2 separate regions of the Homo sapiens genome follow, and region 1 is linked to region 2. The links come from fine-mapping of genetic effects on gene expression. A gene starts in region 2. The other region holds a variant in brackets. All regions are shown on one strand. Distances are from middle to middle. Region 1 has its middle 100 kb from the start of LINC02382. Region 2 holds the start of LINC02275 (long intergenic non-protein coding RNA 2275).

Evidence for each region.
Region 1: its variant is fine-mapped to the expression of LINC02275 in CD8 T cells (CEDAR, PIP 0.95).

The regions. Positions count from the first base shown.
Region 1 is chr4:170,637,404-170,640,325 of GRCh38, forward strand. No RefSeq gene overlaps it. Among named protein-coding and RNA genes, the nearest start is that of LINC02382, 100 kb to the right of the region's middle. The variant C/T (reference allele first, on the strand shown) is at 1,516.
Region 2 is chr4:169,974,624-169,977,545 of GRCh38, forward strand. It overlaps LINC02275 (long intergenic non-protein coding RNA 2275), which reads right to left and starts at 1,279. Exons shown (of 5, transcript NR_037878.1): 1 at 1,193-1,279. RefSeq lists an enhancer at 1,283-2,026.

The DNA.
Region 1 (2,922 bases), 660 kb after region 2:
TCTGTGTCGTAGGAGTGGAATTGCTGGATAAGACAATGCAAGTGGATCTTGAGAGATCTCACCAATGAAGTCATTTGGAACTAGAGTTTTCGAAAAGACTTTGAATACTAATTTAATTACTTTAATAACTATAGATAGGACTATCCACGTTTGTGAGTTATCTTAATATTTTTCTCAGAATTTGACTTTTTATTTAAATTTTAAAATGCAGGAGCATAAATTTACTCTTAAAATTCTCTTTTGCAGCATTTTGATAATGCTCTTATTTTCATTTGTGACGCTAGGTCTTGAATCTTCTTTCTTGATTTTTTTTCTCTTTCTGTATATTGCTCCAGTGGTTTGCCAATTTTTTAAAAAAACTCTCCAAAGGTAAGTTTCTGGCTTGATCTTGATCCTTCCTATTTTTATTTGTTTTCTATTTTATTATTATTTTTCTTATAGTTTTTTTTGGCTTGTTTTGTTGCTATTATGCTGTTTCTTTTTAATATATTCAAAGGGATCCCCAGTCTATTAACAATCTACAATATTTTTTTTAAAAGTTTACTGTAAGTTCTGGGATACATGTGCATAACATGCAGGTTTGTTATAGGTATACATGTGCCATGGTGGTTTGCTGCACCTATCAACCCATCATCTAGGTTTTAAGCCCCACATGCATTAGGTATTTGTCTTAATATTCTCCCTCCCCTTGCCCCCTGGCCCCCAACAGGCCCTGGTGTGTGATGTTCCCCTCCCTGTGTCCGTGTGTTCTCATTTACAACATTTATTTTTTATTGATATATACATCTGATTATGTGATGGCTTTATAATATGTCAACTTGGCTAAATTTCCCAGAATTCCCTGTATGTTTCCAGTTAAAGTGGGTTATAAGAGGATTGTGTACAATAACAGAGTACATGAATGAAGCAACAGCTCATTTTGTAGCTCATCTCCTGATTTTTTTGGCTATTGACCTGCTGACTTGCCCCTCTGATGTAAGGCAGAGTCTGCACCTGCAATTGCTCCACCTTCTTCTGGTTACTTCTTCAGTGTCTGTGACTCTGGAGTCAGGTGTATGTATTTAGTTCCATTGAAAAGAGGCTTGGTTTCTACAGGACACTCATACAACCAATGTCAGAGACAGCAATAACTAATCTGGGTTTCAATATTGTCTCTTGAGTTTTGGCTTTGTTTGTGAATTCTAGCTTGTTTTCATTCTTCTCGACCCTTCATCCACCTTTACATCTCAACTGTCTGCTCTGTGGATAACAAGCTCTAACATCAGGTGTCTTACAGACATCTTAAAAAGCTTCCAACATTCTGTAAGGTCAATGTTTTGTAATAAATCTCTTAATATTAACATATGACATTCAATGGTTCATCTCTCTGGTTGAATCCTGACTGGTACAGAAGTTATGCATTTTTCTCTAAGTTTTTCTGCCACCATCACTTTTATATTTTATTTTGTATGTGTTAAAACATGATTGTAACTCTTTCTTTAATTCATATGTTTTTACACAGACATTTTTGAATTT[C/T]GAAACTTATAAAATATTTATCATTTTCTAACTGATTCTCTATTTAGTTACATATTAGGAAATATGCTTATTCCAACTTTTAAGAATTATGCATTTCTTTGCAGTTACATATGATGAATCTTTGTAAGTGATTTGTGTGTTTGAAAAGAATATATAATCTACATTCATTTGGTAATTGTTTTCTAAATATGATCAATTATGCCAAGAATTTATCATGTTAAAATTTTCCACATTCTTCTTCATTTTCTATCTTCTTCTTGTTTTATCAGTTATCAGGTGTTGAGGTAGTTATTTAAAACTTTTTTTCGAGGGTGGAGCCAAGATGGCCGAATAGGAACAGCTCCGGTCTACAGCTTCCAGTGTAAGCCACGTAGAAGATGGGTGATTTCTGCATTTCCATCTGAGGTACTGGGTTCATCTCACTAGGGAGTGCCGGACAGTGGGTGCAAGACAGTGGGTGCAGCGCATCAAGCGCCAGCCGAAGCAGGGCAAGGCATTGCCTCACTCAGGAAGTGCAAGGGGTCAGGGAGTTCCCTTTCCTAGTCAAAGAAAGGGATGACAGAGGGCACCTGGAAAATCGGGTCACTCCCACCCTAATACTGCGCTTTTCCAACGGGCTTAAAAAACGACACACCAGGAGATTATATCCCGAACATGGCTCGGAGGGTCCTATGCCCACGGAGTCTTGTTGATTGCTAGCACAGCAGTCTGAGATCAAACTGCAAGGTGGCAGCAAGCCTGGGGGAGGGGCGCCTGCCATTGCCCAGGCCTGATTAGGTAAACAAAGCAGCCTGGTAGCTCAAACTGGGTGGAGCCCACCACAGCTCAAGGAGGCCTGCCTGCCTCTGTAGGCTCAACCTCTGGGGGCAGGGCACAGACAAAAAAAAAGACAGCAGTAACCTCTGCAGACTTAAATGTCCCAGTCTAACAGCTTTGAAGAGAGTAGTGGTTCTCCCAGCACACAGCTGGAGTTCTGAGAATGGGCAGACAGCCTCCTCAAGTGGCTCCCTGACCCCCAAGCAGCCTAACTGGGAGGCACCCCCCAGTATGGGCAGACTGACACCTCACATGGCTGGGTACTCCTCTGAGACAAAACTTCCAGAGGAATGATCAGGCAGCAGCATTTGCAGATCACCAATATCCACTGTTCTACAGCCACGGCTGTTCTGCAGCCACCGCTGCTCTGCAGCCACCACTGCTGATACCCAGGCAAACAGGATCTGGAGTGCACCTCTAGCAAACTCCAACAGACCTGCAGCTGAGGGTCCTGTCTGTTAGAAGGAAAACTAACAAACAGAAAGGACATCCACACCAAAAATCCATCTGTACGCCACCATCATCAAAGACAAAAGTAGATAAAACCACAAAGATGGGGAAAAAACAGAGCAGAAAAACTGGAAACTCTAA
Region 2 (2,922 bases):
TCCTCCAAGTCAGAAGTATGCTATGCCCTCCCTTGAATTTCACTAAGATTTTATCTCTTTATCAATGAAGGCATTTATTACTGGTATTTACTACTTTCTTCTATTTATAATAGTTATTCACTGCATATCTGATGCAGTCTCCAAAAAGGTGAAGTTCTTCAGGACAGGAACCATTTTTGTTCACTTTTGTGTTATCTTTGGAGCATGTTATTTCCTTGACCATTGCAACCCCAATAAAGAAAATTGAATTACTGCAAAGTGACTGGCTTTCTGCTTCTTCTGGGTGTCCAAACCTTATCAGCTGATTAATTAAAATGTAATAAAGAAAAAAGGAAAATTATTTGATTCAGCTGATCAGTCATGAGGAAGACTTCTTTAAGGAGTGATGAATTTAGAGTTATGTCAGATACAAAATAGGATATCTTAGTTTTCTGTTTCAGAGATAGTCTTAATCAGAAAGACACTTTTAATAACATAAGTGCTTCAGGATTATTCACCAAATTTATAAGCATTTTTTGGTTTTCATCTGAAGATTATTACTTGAACTTTACAAAAGAATGATTGCTTTGCTTCGTTGAGAAGCATCACTTTCTGATGAGTCAGGATGTACCAATATCAAGATGAGGGATATTTTTATAAAAACAAACATCTATTTTTTTCCTGGCCAACTTTTCTACTCATCAGAATTAGTGCACTGCTCTTCACTTGTAGGAATCCTGATGAGACACGCAATTACCTAGTTACCAATTAACATAAAGAAGATCTTGTGGAACTTCGGGAATCCCTAATCAGCTGGTCTGCAGAAAAACAACACAGCCCACAGGCGCGCATGGGGGAATTATGAGAAATATTTGGAATCACTGTCCACATTTTCTTATCCTTACACATTTTTCCAGCTATTTGTCTTAAATTTAATACACAGTATGAAGTAGAAATAGACCCAGGGTTATTAGATCAGAGAAACTGATCAGGGTAAATATGTCCTATTCATTTCTACAGACTGATTGCTTACCGGGTAAGAAGAGAATGTAACTCCATACCACAATAGGATTTGTTCCCATTCAGTTTAAGAACAGATTACAAAGTAAGCACTTTCATAATTGGTGAAATTAAATTCCTGAGTATTTAGTAAGAACAAGGAAGATTTTATTTGCACAATATTCTCATAAAAGTAAAAAACAACTGAGCCTACCTTCCATCCATATCTGGATCTAACATTTCCTTCAACAGGTGGTGATAAAGAGGCCACGAGGCACTCAGAGAAGCACAGCAAGTAAGTAGAAAGAAGTGATTTACACAGAGAGTTCAAAAGGATTTCTACCATTTAGTTAAATAATACCTAGAGTCCAGACTCTTGTGACCCTGCAAATGCTGGGAAAGAGGATTTACAGCGAGGTTGGGCGGGGCTGATGTTACATAAGAAAGCAGCCACTGAGCCACGCACACTGCCAGATGCCAGGTCAGCCAGGAGCTCAGGGATCCAAGGCCCCTCTCAGACTCCTGGTGCAGCGATTATAGAGTTCAGCCATTTAGGAGAGTGTGACAGAGTGGCGGCAGATGGCCCCTAGCAGAAATAAGTTTTGAATCTGGCTCTGAATCCCACCCTCACTACTGCCTCTAGAATGTCATTAAACTTAAGCAGAGGAGAGGAATGTCAGAACCAAGACAAAGAACTGTCTTTGGTTGAGAGGGTGTTTCTGTCCACTTGCTGTGCCATGCAGGACGTGAGACGGGATAGGGAGATTTCATGTGTGTCATAGGCTGATGTGGTTCTGCCATTGTAAGATCAGCCCTCTTGACATAGTGACTGTTTCCGAGAATAATCATAATGAATCACAAACCTGTTAGCACTTTTTTCTCCTCCTTACCTGCCTCTGGCTGCCAGCGAAGTGCTGGGTTGAAAGTGTGTGAAGTGTGTGCACGTGCACACATGAACACGTGCAGGTGTGGTGGGAAGGGGGCACATGGGTGTGTAAGCAGTCTGTCACATAGGGAAGCAGTTCAGGGCCCAATAGCTTGAGGCCTCTGAGATGAGTTTACTTGTCCTGAAGAACAAGGGTGAACAAAGGCAGTGTTCTCATGGTGGTGACAGCAGCGGGGTGCAGGTCAGTGGAGGCTCAGAAAGGGGAAAGTTAAAATGAGCTATGAGGTCCAGCAATCCGGACAATAAGAAGGAGTCAGGTGAGTGGAGATAAATTAGGCCTGATCACCTTGAAGTTTGGAAAGAGAGGTGGAATTAAGGAGATACACTGGCTTATCCTTCAAAGCCCCCTATAAAACATGTGGAAACATTAACTCACAGCATTGAAAACGGATGTTTGGACATTTTTTATGTGTGTTAGGGGGTGCATATGGTGACCAAGAATGTCTGGAGGTGACCAGAGATAACTGTGGCAGAAATATGAGAACCAGTAAAAGCCAATATTTCCTGGAGGATATCAGCAATTGCCTGTGTAAATTTAAGCACTGGCCTATCTGTGAGTATCTGGCTAACTTTAAGACAGAAGGAAAACAAAGGAATTCATTACCCCCTGGAGGCTGAGGACAAAGCCAGGGATCTGGTCCAGCCTTTCCCCATAAGAAGACCAAGACAGGGAGGCATATGAAGACCAGGAATATAGTTCTCCAGTTCCATCCATGTTATGTTAAGTGAAATAATCCAGGAACAGAACGGTAAACAGTGCATGTTCTCACTCACATGTGGAAGCTAAAAGAGCTGATCTCATAGAAGTAATAAGTGCTACAGAGGAGACTAGAGGCTGGGAAGAGGAAGAGAGGGAAGACGAAGGAGGTAAGGGAGAGATAGGGATATATTTGATAAAAGGATACTAAATTACAGCTAAATAGGAGGAATAAGTTCCAGTGTTCTATACCATTATAGGATGACTAAAGTTAACAATTATTTTTACATATTTTCAAATA